2 separate regions of the Homo sapiens genome follow, and region 1 is linked to region 2. The links come from fine-mapping of genetic effects on gene expression. Tissue or cell type: whole blood. Region 2 holds a variant in brackets; the other region holds the start of a gene. All regions are shown on one strand. Distances are from middle to middle.

Region 1 (8,000 bases), 38 kb before region 2:
GAATTTAATGCAGGGGGCTCCCTGCTTCACAGAAAACACTGACTTATAGAATATCATAGAAGTGGAAACATGTTTATTTGAGCTGAGTATTTGCATGAGAAGCACTTAAATCTGCTACCTGTGCCACCACTAAATCCAAGAACATGAACTATTTGAGCACTTCAAAGTCAGGGAAACCCTCACAGAAGCAACACAGACTTATGGGGCCATACCTCATTTTAGGATATAATGACTGGACTGCCCAACTTAGCACTTTTTAAACACTCAATCAACAAATGTTTACTGAATTCTTTTAATGCGCAAAGTATACTAAATATAGAACCCAATCCCTAGCAGCAATGAGCTCGTAGGAGGGTAAAGACTGTATTATCGATCACACATGCTTGACTTAAACACACATTTATTCATTCATAAACATTTGCATGGAACCAACTAAATCCAGGAATCAAATGGCACTGGAGCCCAACTGCCAAACGAGGGACACAGACACTAGGAACAGCGGTCGGAAGAGGACCTCCCCCTGCCAGGCCTCCACCTGCTCTGTCCTGCTATGCTTCCCATTGCTTCCCCAGTCCAAGCCAACTGAGAGAACCCTGACCCAAGCTTTTCTGCCTCTTTAATCCCCCAGCCCTTCCCTCCAGCACACCCTTCCCCTCCTTGCTGTACAGGTTAAGATCCTCTGTGCCTCCTGAAAACTAAGCCTTGCCTGCTCTCTATGCTACAGATGTGACATTCCCTCCCTTTCAACTCCTCTCTCACAAAACTCTGTTCAGACTTCCCTCAAGACACTTGTCATAGTGTGCCTTGTGTCATATTTGTGTATGTTATGTCTATACCTCAAGCTTCAGAAATTCCTTCACGCAGGTCCTGGGATGTCTTTGTATTCCTAGCATGGGTGCTCAATATTATTTGTAGAACTGAATTTGTTGGGAAAGAGGCATTTAGACTCAGAATGGCAGGGCTGCATCATGAAGTACAACTCCCTCACCTGACTCCTGATGAAACTGAGGTCCAGAGGCATGAAGTGCTTAGGCAGGGGGAGGTCCAGCACTCCAAGCTGAATTTAAGAAGTGACTGGGGGGCGGGGGGGTGGGGTGGTGGTGGTAGTGGATAAACTACAATGTTCTCTTGCCTAATCATTTGGCCTGCTTATTTCCTTAAAAGTCTGAATATTTGATGCCACAGCTATGACTTATATTTATTTTGCCTAATCCAAACTCTCTGAGCTGACTCTCAGAAATGCTTGAAGTATTTCATACAAGTATAATCAATGCATTAAGCACCTGGAGCAGAGTGGCTGGAACCAGACCAGAAATTGATCTTCCCTCCTCTAAGAGCCAAGTGCACCACAGCTATGCTTCTCCTGAACTACTGATCAAAATCTACCTTGCTTTAGTGTTGTCTGTGGATTCATCTCTCCCCTACAACCTCACTGTGGACTCCATGAGGGCAAAAACCCTGTTCTCTACAGCTTTGCATTCCCAGAGCTTACCACCATGCCTGCCACTTTCATGCTCCATAAATGCTGTTGAAGGAATAGATTAATAAAAAAGCCATCTACCAGCACTGAGCACTCACTAAACACAAAGCACTTATATGGATTACCTCACTTAATCCTTAACATTACCCTGATAAGGATCATTAGTGGCCGAATGTTACAGATGAGGAAACTGCAGCACACAGAAGTTTAATAACTTGCCCAAGTTTCACAAAAGCAGTAAGTGATGCAGCCATAAGAACGAACGAAATCATGTCCTCTGCAGCAACATGGACGTGGCTGGAAGCCACTATCTTCTTTTTTATTTTCTTTTGTTTGAGAAGGAGTCTCACTCTATTGCCCAGGCCAGAGTGCAGTGGCATGATCTCGGCTCACTGCAACCTCCACCTTCTGGGTTCAATCAATTCTGCCTCAGCCTCCCCAGTAGCTGGGATTACAGGTGGGAGCCACCACACCTGGCTAATTTTTGCATTTTTAGTAGAGGCGGGCTTTCCCCATGTTGGCCAGGCTGGTCTCAAACTCCTGGCCTCAGGTGTTCCTCAGTCTTGGCCTCCCAAAGTGCTGGAATTACAGGCGCGAGCGCGGCCTGGAAGCCATTATCCTAAGAGAATTAACACAGGAACAGAAAACCAAACACCGCATGGGAGCTAAAACTGGGTACGCACGGACATAAAGATGACAATAAACACACTGGTGACTACTAGAGCTGGAAGGGAGGCAGTGGGGCTAGGGGTGAAAAACTACCTATTGCGTACTATGCTCACTACCTGGGTGAAAGGATCATTTATACCCCAAATCTCAGCATCACGCACTATACCCAGGCAACAAACCTGCACCAATGTACCCCTTGACTCCAAAATAAAAGTTGAAAACATTTTAAAAACTTTTGTAACAATAGTAGTGAAAACAGTATTTGAACCCAAGTCTGCACACTGCTAAACCCATGCTTCTCAGCAATGCATACCCAGGACAAGGGTGGACCTAAGTGGCCCGTGGGCGCCAGGGAGGCGGCCACTGAGCCAAGGGCACAGGGTATGGTCAAGTCTCCAGCAATGCACTTTTCTCAGCACTACCACCCTCAGCCCGAACCAAGGACTGGAAGGAGCCCCAAAGAGTGTGTGGGTGGAGAGCGGGGCAGGAACCCGTGGGCGCGGGAACGAGGAAGGGGAGTCGCTTACCTATTATGGGAACCTCAGCGATGAAGACCCTCCGAATCGAATTGGCCACCCTGAAAGATCAAAAGCCAAGGGGCGTGAAGGCGCTGCAGCCTCGACAGGCTGGGCCCGCGCCGCAGGCTCCCAAAGCTAAAGCCCTGGTGCAGGGGGGCAGCTCTGGAAGGACATCGCCCCCACCCCACCCCACTACACCCCCGCCCCCTGCCCCGGGGCCCCGGCTTGGGCCTCCCGGCGCCCCAGAGCCGCCAGCCTCTTCCCTCGGTAGCCTTACGCCAGGTCGGTGTTCTCGATGATGAACTTGACATTCTCGTCAGTGAGCTCCGTGATCCGCACGGTAGGCTGGTTGGCGTACGGCATCTCGCCCAGGGGCCACCAGCCTCCGCGTCTGCTCCGCGGTGACTGCGCGGCGCCACCGCCAACACCGGAAGTCAGTCAGCGAGGCCTCCGCGGCTTCCGCAAAGACGACTCACAGCGCCGCCTGCTGCTCGGAGGCCAGAACTGCCGAGCGTCTTCTGCGGCCTCCTGCTTTAAAATGTACCAGATTCAGCTATCTCGGAGGGTAGTTTGGCAAAACACGCATACGTCCTTCACTTAACAGTAACACTTCTAAGAATTCATACTGCAGAAACACTTGCAGTTGTAAACAAAGATACGAGTGCAGGGACGTTCGTGGTAGTACTGTTTGTACTGTCCATTGATAAGAGACCTGGTGGAGTATACACACATGGAATACTATGAAGCACTTAAAAAGAACTTGTACATCTATAGAAAAACAAAAGTATATTTTAATATGAATGTATATTTTAGCAAAGTATACCTGAATTATAAGTAAATACCCTTTCCCTTGCAGTCTCAAGTATGGACCATGCACTTCTGAAAACTTCAGGAAAAGATACAATGTTCTTTAACCTAATGCTTCCTCTACAGTCTGTGTAGCTGTGGTGGGTGAGTGGGAACTCTTTGTCTCTGCATCCCCAGTGCCTGGCAGTGGGCACCATGTGGGGTGCATGCTCAACAAAGAACTACTGAAGTCCCCTAAACAGACTGGAGAGAGGTTTAAATGGGCCTCAAAAAAAGTGGCTGCTGCTCCAACAGAGAAAAGCTCTAAAATAGAACGTGGCAGGAAATACATTTAAGAGTTGGGAGAAGAGTAACCAGATAAAGAGGAGTTTGCCTTTGCAAAGAGTGACACCTCTTCCTGAAACAGAGGGTGGGCACTGATGGAACCCTGCTCCATAACCTGTGTCATCTTGGTAAATTAAGAATTATGGTTGTCTGCTGAGTGTAAGATGGATGCTATGAAGGAAAAAGGAGAATGCAATGAAAACTGGAACAGCTACTGCGAAAACTTCACAGGATGTCAAGAGATACAAGGAATTGAGAGGTGCAAAAAAGATCCAGTGGAAGACCCACAAGAGATCTGAAATTCAATTAGTTGCTGACTTTCCCCCATTAATATTCAGCTGACAGGCAGAAGAGAGCAAAGCAGAAAACAGAGCTAACCAGACGTGCAAAGGGAACCCAGCCAGTGTAGAGGCTGAGAAAATTACTGGGGCTAAAGAATGTACCACTAAAATCGTCAGACAAGAGCAGCCAAGGGAGCTGATGGTCTGTGGGAAGGCTTCTGTTACCCGTATTTTACTGATGGGAAGACTTGAGCCCAGAGACGCAGAGGTACTATAATTACCACTATGTATTAGGCAGTGGCAGCGCCAGAACACAGGTCTCCTGGCTGCCATAACTTAACCTGTCTCCCTCTGGGGTCCTGGATACCTATCATGATTGATAAGGAAACTAACTACACAATGGGAAACTACTTCAAACATATTTATTATTTTTACAGACTCAAAATACACTAATAATCCTGCAATGCATGCTGGTGTCATGTGACACCAGGCCTGGAATCACACCTCTGTCCAGCAGGCACTTGTCTCAGGTGAGGCAGTTTTCTGAGGGGGCTCCCAGGAACAGCATCTCAGGACACCTGAGAGGGAGGGGGCTGCAAGGAACACCTCTGTGTGCACACGCCTGTGCTGTGCTGGAGATGAGCTGTCACCTTGAGGTGGCGTCAGACCTTGACTCTGGCTTGGGAGCCCCAAGGTTAAGGGAAGGTTAAGACATGATCAAGGTGCCCATGAGATTGTGACAGGGACATGCTGGGTTTCTGTGGCTTGACTGCTTGGATGAACATCTCATTTTTCAATCACACAGTTGCAGTGCAGAAAGGCATCAGGAGGCTTGGTCTGGTATTAGGAACTGAAGAAGCAGCCCAATCCCTGACCAGAACGGTAGCATCAAATGCCTTGTGGTTTCCAGGTGGCTGTGGTAGTGACTCAGGAGTCCTTTAGTGTGTTCTCGTGAACACCAGGTTATGTGGATGGCACCTTATACTTTTCAAAGCTCTTTCAATCTGTCCGCTCATTCTCTTCTAGGCATTGTAGCTTATACCCCTTCCTCTCACCGACGCTGGTTTAGACCTGTCAAGTTCTTGAGCTGACACGGGAATGGAAATAAAGAGAATAGTGAGGGCTTACCTTGCCTCTAGACTCTAATAGAAAAGACCTAGCTTTTCTTTTTCTCTTTTTTTTTTTCTTTTTTGCATAGAGACAGGGTTTTGCTATGTTGGCCAGACTGTCCTCAAACTCCTGGGCTCAAGCGATCTTCCCAAATCGCTGAGATGATATGCATGAGCCACTGCACCTGGCCAAGATCCAGGTTTGCAAGGTGGCAGGTGTGGCTATGATACAGAGACTTGATATACCAGGGTCCCAGGAGTCAGTGATATCTCCTGATGACAGGAAAAAATAAAGAAGTGAGGTTTTTGGAATCAAGACACTAGGGCTGAACCATTGTCAGCCTTATTATTAGATTATTGTTTCCAGGTTAGGGCTACAAAATGATGTGAAGTCAGTAACACATGTATCACAGAGCCGGAATGGGAGAGAGGAGGGGCAGGGATGTGCTGGGCAGTACTCACCGTCACTGCTGCACCCATGAGTCCTTGCACCAGTGCCTCTCCTGTGGACTTTACCTAGAAGGAGTCAGTGTCAGGTTCCCTTAGGCCACCAACACAAAGTTAAACTTGAGACAGGCAGGACAAATCAGGAGGCCTATGAGCCCCAAAAGGTGAAGACAAGGGGGCCACGTTACTGGAAGGAGAGCTTTGGACAACACAATCACAAATGCAAATGAGCAAAGTGTGGCTCTTAGGGAAGGGCTGGCCTGAGGAAGAACCAGCCAGGCCCTTGGGAAGGCCCTCAGGACTGTCAGCTGAGGCCAAAAGGGAGCAAGACCAGCTGTGACCTGAGGAGAATAGGTATGCCTTCTAAAGAGGGTTCCCCAATGGCTAGTCCCCACCTACCTGCTTGGCAGTGTGGCCCATGTTCATTGCATCATTAACCCGGTTTTCCAGGAAGCGCCAAGTGTCCTCAAAGTCTGGAGAGGAGTCCTGCATCATCACCAGCTCTGTTGTGTTGTAGATGGCAGCCAGCATGGCTCGGCGGGTGTACCAGTTAAACTGTAAAGAAACCCACACTACCGCTGTGGGCTGGTGCAAGTCTGAGGCAGTTCCTACCCAAGGCCATGGGAACTCCTGGGTTCCCTCTTGACTACTTCTTGACTGTCACAGATACATCTGGCCCTCTGGACAACACTACCATCTCAAACTTGACTGAGCATCAGAATTACCTACTTGATTAAAAATGCAAGCTCCTGGGCCCAACCTCTTAAGAGTAGAGTCAATGGATCTAAATAAAGTGCCAGGAATCAGGAAACTTAATAAGTATCCCAGATGATTTGGCTACATCCAATCCATTTTGGAACTGCTAGTAGAAAGCCTACATCTTAAGACATCTGAGTCCCAGAAGACGCTGTAATCAGCCAGCTATGACCGAACCTTGGTGTGTTCATCAATAAAGTGAGGGCTGAGAGAGGCTCATGGACAGATTACAATACCTGGGCAAAGCTGAGAGTTCAAGTCCCTCAGCAACTTCTGATTGTTCTAGCAAACTACTCTTCAGAGGACCAGCTCAGCTGCTTGGTGTTTTATTCCTTTAATTTCTTTGCTTTCTAATTTCATTTTCCTACCGTCTCTGTTGGCATTATATTCCCACATGGAGGAAGTTTATTAAAACACTTTGTTATAACTATGGTGGGAGTATTTCTGTGCCTCCTCATCCAGGATTCCACAAAGTATCATCACATTTTCTTTTATGAAGGTGTATTTTTTAAAATTTCCTACCAGAAATATGATAGCATTAACAAGTCGGATTCTTTCCTGGTGCTGTTTAAAGAGCCTTATTGATCACTTAGCAAAGCAGGCCAAGATGGGCTGGGGAAGGGAATTTCTTTTTAAAGCAATGGGTGCCTCCATGGCATTTCTTTTTTTCAAAAGAGGAATTTTGCTGCAGAATCTACATCTTAGGAGAGAGGGAAATGATAATAAAATGGCAGCCCAATTAGCTTTCGCCAATGCTAAAGGATCTCTGACACCTGGTGTCACCACAAGCTGGAAGAAATAATAACTGGTTTGTGGCTAGAATGCTGGTCCCTGAATGAAGATGACCTAGATCCCACTTTGGCTTCTTGACGGACCTTCCTCATACCTTAGATGGGAATGACACTGCAGCCCCCCTGCAGGGGCTTATGATCAAAGCAATTTCACAAGCTTCTTGAAGAAATGCTTAACACAAGCCTTTCCCAGCCTCCTGTGGGCCTGCAGAAAGCACTCACATCAGTGGACTGGTCCCCAGCGTAATGCCACATGTCATCCACCATGCTGGTGAGCAGGCTCAGGCTGGACGGGATGTTGTGAGGGAGCATGAGGATGCTGAGGGCCTGGAGAGAGAATGGCAGAGGAGTAAGCTCTGCTCACAGGTAATGGTGCATAGTTGACCAGCATCTACCTCTCCAAGAGGTGTATGAGGGGGCCTGCCAAGCTCTGGTTCTCTGAGACCAGCATCTTCACCCACTGGCGTGAGTTGTGGGCAGCTAGCAATGCTGACTACAGCTGAGGAGAGCCAGGGGCATAGCCCCGTCTTATGCAAGCCCAAGCACATTCTCCATCCCTAGCATTTGGAACTGGGAATGCAGAGGGCCAGAGGGTCTAGACTGGTCTAAGCAAGGATGGGCAAAGATACCCCAGTCTGTCACACAAAGGAAGAAGCAGAGATAGGAGTCCGTTCACACACATCAGCTCCTACTGACAAACAGAACAAGGTCCTTCCACTTTACCAATGCTACATCCACTGGGGAGGTGATCAGAGAGGTCCTGGATTGGCTGTAAGGTTTTCTCTTAGTGAAGCAGCCCAGAAGAAAACACTATGCTG
Region 2 (8,259 bases):
TGAAGTTAATTAAAAGGGAGATTATCCTGAGTAGGCTTGACCCAATCAGTTGATCCTTTAAAAGAACTAGAGAAGAATTTCTCTTGCTAGCCATGAAGAAGTAAGTGCTGTATTAGTCTGTTTTCATACTACTATAAAGAACTGCCCGAGACTGGGTAATTTTTAAAGGGAAGAGGTTTAATTGACTCACAGTTCTGCATGGCTGGGGAGGCCTCAGGCAACTTACAATCATGGCGGAAGGCGAAGGGGAAGCAAGACACCTCCTTCACAAGGTGGCAGGGAGGAGACATGCTGAGCAAAGGAGGAAGAGCCCCTTATAAAACCATCAGATCTTGTGAGAACTCACTATCATCAGAACAGCATGGGGGAAACCGCCCTCATGATTCAGTTACCTCCACCCCTCTCGCTTGACACGTGGGGATTATGGGGATTACAATTCAAGATGAGATTTGGGTGGGGACACGAAGCCTAACCATATCAGTTGCCAAGTAGGGAGAGGGCCATTGGCAAGGAACTGTGAGTGCAGGCTCCTCACATGCTGGCAGACAGTCGAGAAAAAGGGGACCTTAGTCCACAGCTGCAAGGAACCGCATTCTGCCAACAACCAGGTTAGCTTGGAGAGGACCCCAAGTTCCAGTTGAGAATGCAGCCTAGCCGGCACCTTGTAAGATCCTGAGTAGAGGCCCCGGTCTTCTGTGCCAGGACTCCTGGCCCACAGAACTTGTGATAAGAAATGGGTGTTTTAAGCAGCTAAATGTGAGGTCGTTGGTTACACAGCAGTAGGAAACTAATTCAGCCCCAGAATGGTTTGACAGTAACAAAATTATTATTTATTATTATTATTTTGAGATGGAGTCTCGCTCTCTCACCCAGGCTGGAGTGCAGTGGTGTGATCTCGGTTCACTGCAAGCTCTGCCTCCCAGGTTCAAGCGATTCTCCTGCCTCAGCCTCCCGAGTAGCTGGGACTACAGGCATGTACCACCACGCCCAGCTAATTTTTTGTATTTTTAATAGAGACGGGGTTTTACCATGTTAGCCAGGCTGGTCTCAAACTCCTGACCTTGTGATTCACCTGCCTCGGCCTCCCAAAGTGCTGGGATTATAGGTGTGAGCCACTGCCTGGTCCGATAGTAACATAATTATTAAGCTGCAGGGCCACTGTTGGTTGCTTCTGCTGCACTTGCCCATATGAAGGACAAAAATCTCAACCTCCATGTTGAGGACAAGAGATCCTGAGCCAGAGCTTCCTGGACAGGCCTAGCAAATGCCACAAGCCCTCGCCGATTCTTGCTCTGAGTCCCAGCTGTTGCTGGCAAAAAGGATACTGCCATCTCCTGTCTGCTGCAGTTGGCATAGTTAATGATTTTATGCCGGCAGTTGCCGTGTCACTCCACAGGGTCCGGGGCAAGCCAGCTAGCTCGGAGTCTGGGGCCCAGAGTGAGGGAAGAGTCCTTGCCAATCAGCAGGACACACCTGGGCCGGGGGCTCAGACACACCTGCACCTACACCTGCACCCAGTGAGGCAACAGCCAGACAGGCTAGAGGTTTCAGCGTTCAGCAAGCTCACAGTATTGGAGCCAACATGGGCTCTTATAATCACTGAATGCAACCTCATCTTACATCTGAGGAAAGGGTGAGACTGGGAGGGTAACCTGCTGCCATCATTCACCTGAGCACCTCTTAAAAGTACTGAGGCCTGGCCGGGTGTGGTGGCTCACGCCTGTAATCCCAGCACTTTGGGAGGCTGAGGTGGGCAGATCATGAGGTCAGGAGATTGAGACCCTCCTGGCTAACACAGTGAAACCCCATCTCTACTAAAAATACAAAAAATTAGCCGGGTGTGGTGGTGGGTGCCTTGTAGTCCCAGCTACTCGGGAGGCTGAGGCAGGAGAATCGCTTGGACCTGGGAGGCAGAGCTGGCAGTGAGCCGAGATCACACCACTGCACTCCAGCCTGGGAGACACAGCGAGACTCCGTCTCAAAAAAATAAAGTACTGAGGCCTGGCCCGGCACAGTGGCTCACACCTGTAATCCCAGCACTTTGGAAGGCCGAGGCAGGTGGATCACTTGAAGTCAGGAGTTCGAGACCAGCCTGGCCAACATGGTGAAACCCCACCTCTACTAAAAATACAAAAATTAGCCAGGTGTGGTGGTGCATGCCTGTAATCCCAGCTACTTTGGAGGCTGAGGCAGTTGAATCGCTTGAACCCAGGAGGCGGAGGTTGCAGTAAGGCAAGATGGTGCCATTGCCCTCCAGCCTGGGTGACAAGAGTGAAACTCCATCTCAAAAAAAAAAAAAAGTACTGAGGCCTGATGTCCTTGGATGTTCTGAGTCAGCCCAATGTGGACCGAGATGGGGCTGGGGGTGTAATATTTCTTCTTTTTTAGTTTTCTAAAGTCTCTAGCTTAGAACTTGGCAGTGTACATTTGGGACTTCCCCCTTCCGAAATCATTCAAAATCAGTAAATGGAGGGGACAGCAGAGACAAACCATTACCTTCCTTGGGGTTAGGAGGCAGCCAAAACAGAACCACAAAATACTTGGAAGGAGATGAGAGCAGAGGCTTTGGAGCCAGAGTGTGGACAGGAGAGAAGGGAGAGCAGATGAGGGTGCAAACCTGCTCCAGATGAAGATACCCCTGAGCTGCAGAATGGGCCCTCGTGTGTAACAGTGGGGTCCAAGGGCACAGGCAGGCAGTGGGGCTGAAGGGAGAACCCCACAGCGGAGCCTGGCATGCTGGAAGCACCCTGGTCTCTGCACTGGAGAAGAGAGACTGTGAACAGCCCAGCTGCCTGTCCTTGTGGCAGGGAGAAGGCTAAACAGAAACCTTACCAAGTATTGGTGAAAATGTGGCCGGGTGAGAACTCCCTGTTGGTAGGGATACTTTGGGCAATGTCACCCTCATGTCACTTTGAACACTGGCTGCATATTAGAATCACCTGGATAGCTTCCAAAAATAAACCAAAACAAAACAAAACAAAAGCCTATTCCTGGATTTCCTCTCCAAAACCCAATTCAGTCAGAATCCCTTGGAGTAGGGCCCAGGGCATCAGCATTTTTGCAAAGCTCTCCCAGGTCATTGTAGAGTGCAGCCAGGATTGAGAACCACTGCCCTAGAGAAATTCTTTGGCCCATGCACCAGGAGACAAGTATTCAAAGCAGCAGTACTTCTAAGAGACAATCCAAATGTCCATTAACAAGAGCGTGAATGAATGAGCTGTGCGTCCAAGCAGTGGAACACTGCACAGCAGTGATGAGCTATAGCTGTGCACTTCAACATGGAAGAATCACGAAGCAACAGAAGCCACAAAAGCAAGTCACAGAAGTGTGTGTGTGTGTGTGTGTGTGTGAGAAATATTTCATTTACATAAAGTTCAAAAACATGCCAGATGCATCAGCCTGTCATTAAGGATATACACATACATATGTGCATATACATGATGTATACACACATGTATGTGTGTGACAAAACTAATAAAGAGCTCAAGGGGAATGATATAATTCAGGACCACAGTTGGCTCCAAAGGGAGACGGGAGAAAGAGGCAGGACTTCATCAGCAGGAAAGTTCTATTTCTTTAGGCTGGACGGTGGGTATACAAGTGTTTATTTTTATGTGTTTGTATACCTGCTATATACATGATGGATTTGTATTTCTTCTTCTTTTTTTTTTTTTTTTTTTTTTTTGAGACAGAGTCTCGCTCTGTCGCCCAGGTCGGACTGCGGACTGCAGTGGCGCAATCTCGGCTCACTGCAAGCTCCGCTTCCCGGGTTCACGCCATTCTCCTGCCTCAGCCTCCCGAGTAGCTGGGACTACAGGCGCCCGCCACCGCGCCCGGCTAATTTTTTGTATTTTTTAGTAGAGACGGGGTTTCACCATGTTAGCCAGGCTGGTCTTGAACTCCTGACCTCAGGTGATCCACTCGCCTCAGCCTCCCAAAGTGCTGGGATTAACAGGCGTGAGCCACCACGCCCGACCAGTGGATTTGTATTTCTAAGAAACTTCATTGAAAAAACCTGAAAACCTCTCACATGAAACCCTGGGTCTTAAGAAGAATACTGCTAGCCCAGGACAAAGTCCTGCTTCTCCCCGACACGAACCTCTGTGGAACACTTGACCCCGTTATCATCTCATGCAAAATTTTTAAAGTGGAACTAGTACGGCATCTATATATATAAAGCTGCCTCAGAATAATAGTAACAGAGGGAGAAGGTTGTCACAGAGCAGGTGAATACTGTTTGTGACCAAAATTTTTGCTACAAATTACACAAATGTATAAAATAGCTTTGTGCTAAGTAGGGGTGGGGATGGGGCAGCTCTTGGGTGGCTCTTACTTCACCCCTCTCGGGGAAAGCAGGGACAGAAGCCCCCACTCAGCCCTCAGTGACTTCAGATCTCACCTTCAGTGGTCACTCCTGGTGGTCAAGCTGGTGGTCTGGTCATTGGTTACCCGTGGCCCACCATCCAGCATGAGGCTTTCACCTCTGCAAACCTCTGTGCTGATCTGGAGACTGCGTTCAGACTCAGCTGGGTTAGAATGCTCCTT[T/C]CTTTCCTTCCTTCTTTCCTCCCTTCCTTCCCCTCCCTCACTCCTTCCCTCTCTTCCTTCCTTCCCCTCCTTCCCTCCCTCCCTTCCCCTCCCTCACTCCTTCCCTCTCTTCCTTCCTTCCCCTCCTTCCCTCCCTCCCTCCTTCATTGCTTCCCCTCCCTCCCTTCCTCCCCCTCCCTCCCTCCCTTCCCTCCCACCATCCATCCTTCCTTCCTTCTCCTCTTCCCTTCCTTCCCCTTTCTTCCTTTTCCTTCCTTCCCTTCCTTCCTTCCTCTCTCCATCCCTTCCCCTCCCTCCCTCCCTTTCCTCCTTCCTCCCTCCCTCCCTCCCTTCCTTCCTCCCTCCCTCCCTTCCTTCCTTTCCTCCTTCCTTCCTTCCTTTTTGATTTTCTATTATTACTTAAACATTTTTTCTCTTAAATCATGAAAGATTTCAAATACAGAGAATTTCCAATAGACAACTAGCTTTGCTGTGTGTGATTCTGATCACTCCTTTTTTTCGTACACAAGTGATACAGCAGTGGCAAAATCCCTTCGCTGTCCTCCCAGAGGACTCCTTTGTCCTGAGCTGATATATGTCTCATCCAAGCCTGCTACTCTACAGAAAAGTGAATATTGAATATGTCTTTTTTATGAAATTCACATAACATAAAATGAACGATTTAAAATAAACAATTCAGCAGCATTTGGTACATTCACAGTGTGGTGCAACCACCACCTCTATCTAGTTCCAAAATGTTTTCATTGCCCTGAAAGGAAACCCCATCCCCAGTAAGCAGTCCCTTCCGGTCTTCCTCTCCCACCATCTCTGGTCACCACCAGTGGGCGTTCTGACTCCATGGAGTTACTTCTGACATTTCATATGAATGAAATTATACACTGTGTGACCTTCTGCGTTTGGCTTCTTTAGCTTAACAGAGTGTTTCGAGCTTCACCCATATCGTAGGGCGTATCCATGCAGAAAAATCTTCCTTATATGGTTAGACCACTTTTGTTTATCCATTCAGCTGTTGATAGGCCTTGGGCTGTTTCCAGCTTTGTGCTGTAGTAAATATCCCACCATGAACATGTATGTGCAAGGACTTAACAAGTCCTTTGAAAGCTGATTTTTGGCTGTGACAGTTTCTCAGACTTTCCTTGTTTTGGATGAGCTTGATCATTTTGAGGAGTACTGGTCAGGGTTGGTTGGTTGGTTTGTTTTGAGACAGAGTCTCACTCTGTTGCCCAGGCTGGAGTGCAGTGGACTGATCTGGGCTCACTGCAGCCTCTACCTCCCAGGTTCAAGCAATCCCCCTGCCTCGGCCTCCCAAGTAGCTGGGATTACAGGCATGCACCACCATGCCCAGCTAATTTTTGTATTTTTAGTACTGTCAGAGTTTCACCCTGTTGGCCAGGCTGGTCTTGAACTCCTGACCTCAAGTGATCCGCCTGCCTCGGCCCCTCAAAGTGCTGGGATTACAGGTGTGAGCCACCATGCTTGGCTGAAGGCTGGCTTCTTAAAGCCCTGATCCCTTTGCTCGTCTGAGTATTTCACCCCCGTGGTTGCCATGCTGGCTTTGGAGAAGGGCACAGGGAATATCCAGGTGATGGCAGTTCAATTATGAGGAAATGGCAGGTTTTCTTTTCTTTCTTTTCTTTTCTTTTTCTTTTTTTTTTTTTTGAGACAGAGTCTCACTCTCACTCTGTCACCCAGGCTGGAGTGCAATGGCGTGATCTCGGCTCACTGCAACCTCTGCCTCCCGAGTTCAAGTGATTCTCCTGCCTCAGCCTCCCGAGTAGCTGGGATTACAGGCACGCGCCACCATGCCTGGCTAATTTTTGTATTTTTAGTAGAGACGGGGTTTCACCATGTTGGTCACACTGGTCTCGATCGCTTGACCTCATGATTGTGAGCCACTGCGTCCGACCAGAAACGGCAGGTTTTCTAAGACTGTGGTCCGCTAAGGGCGATGTGAGAGGTAGAGGAGTAGCCATATTGGCACATCCCCAAACAGGTGAGAGAAGGTCCAGTTCCATTGCTTCATGGAGAAATAGGCTCAGGCAGGTGAGGCTCAGGCAGGTGAGGCGCATGTGTCCAGGTCCGACGGCCAGTCAGTGGCAAAGCAGAGACTCCAAACAGGTCCCTGACCCTTTGTGTTAAAATGTACTTTCGAAGATAAACTTTTTTTAGCTCCCACATATGAGTGAGAACATGAGATATTTGTCTTTCTGTGCCTGGCTTATTTCACTTAACATAATGACTGTCCATCCATTTTGCTGCAAATGACAGGATTTCCTTCTTTTTTTATGGCTGAATCGTACTCTGTTGTGTACATGTACCAAATTTATTTATTTATTACTCCATTGATGGACACGGGTTGATTTCATATTTTGGCTATTGTGAATAGTGCTGCAATAAACATGGGGGTGCAGGTATCCCTTTGATATATTGATTTCCTTTCCTTTGGATAAATACCCAGTAGTAGGATTGCTGGATCATATGGTAGTTCTATTTAGGGGAGAGGGGTGATGGGGAGAGATTGGTTAATGGGTACAAACAAACAGCTGGATAGAAGGAATAATTTCCAGTGTTCGATTGCACAGTAGGGTGACTATAGTAAACAATTTATTGTGTATTTCTTTTTTCTTTCTTTCTTTTCTTCCTTCCTTCCTTCCTTCCTTTCTTTTTCTTTCTTTCTTTCTTTCTTTGAGATGGAGTTTCACTCTTATCGCCCAGGCTGGAGTGCAATGGTGCAATCTTGGCTCACTGCAACCTCTCCCGGGTTCAAGCGATTCTCCTGCCTCAGCCTCCCGAGTAGCTAGGATTACAGGTGCCAGCCACCACATCCAGCTAATTTTTTTGTATTTTTAGTAAAGATGGGGTTTCATCATGTTGGCCAAGCTGGTCTAGAACTCCTGACCTCAGGTGATCTACCTACTTTGGCCTCCCAAAGTGCTAGGATTACAGGCGTGAGCCACCATGCCCAGCCTTTTTTTTCTTTTTGAGACAGGGTCTCCCTCTGTAACCCCGGCTGGAGTGCAGTGGCACCATCACAGTTCACTGCAGCCTTGACCTGCTGTGCTCAAGTGATCCTCCCACCTCAGCCTCCTGAGTAGCTGGCAGCACAGGCGCATGCTACCATGCCTGGCTAATTTGTGCATTTCGTAAAGACTGAGTCTCACTATGTTGCCCAGACTGGTCTCAGACTCCTGGGCTCAAGTGATCCTCCCACCTTGGCCTCCCAGAGTGCTGGGATTACAGGTGTGAGCCACTATGCCCAGCCTATTGTATATTTCAAAATAGCTAGAAGAGAAGATTTGAAACGTTCCCAACACAGTGAAATGATAAATGTTCGAGGTGATGGATATCCTGATTACCTTGATCTGATCACTATGCATTGTATGCTTGTGTCACAGTATCATATGTATCCCATAAATATGTACAATTACTATGCATCAATTTAAAAAATTTAAAATGTACCCCCAGGATTTGAATTGATGGAGGTGACTGAGTGACAACACAGAGCGACCAAGGACACTGAAAGAATTCATCACTTGCATCTCCCAGGAGAACAGGGCATGGCACACACGCAGGACCACACACGGGGCCACAGGGGGAGCACCAAGTTTGGTCAGGAGGCTGAAAGGAAGGATCAGAACAGCACAGGCCACAGCCTTTTGTGGGGTTTCCACCCGAAGTGCAAGGCAGGCCAGGGGAAGCAGCCCGGGTCTGGCT

The links. PIP is the estimated chance that this variant, and not a neighbour inherited with it, causes the effect.
Region 1: POLR2C starts here. The variant in region 2 is fine-mapped to the expression of POLR2C in whole blood (TOPMed, PIP above 0.99).

What each region holds. Positions count from the first base shown.
Region 1 is chr16:57,457,755-57,465,754 of GRCh38, reverse strand. It overlaps POLR2C (RNA polymerase II subunit C), which reads right to left and starts at 3,076. Exons shown (of 9, transcript NM_032940.3): 1 at 2,945-3,076; 2 at 2,677-2,726. The coding sequence starts at 3,030. It overlaps COQ9 (coenzyme Q9), which reads right to left. Exons shown (of 9, transcript NM_020312.4): 6 at 7,405-7,509; 7 at 6,035-6,190; 8 at 5,651-5,704; 9 at 4,485-5,166. The coding sequence ends at 5,131. RefSeq lists an enhancer at 2,924-3,218.
Region 2 is chr16:57,419,646-57,427,904 of GRCh38, reverse strand. No RefSeq gene overlaps it. Among named protein-coding and RNA genes, the nearest start is that of CCL17, 19 kb to the right of the region's middle. The variant T/C (reference allele first, on the strand shown) is at 4,546.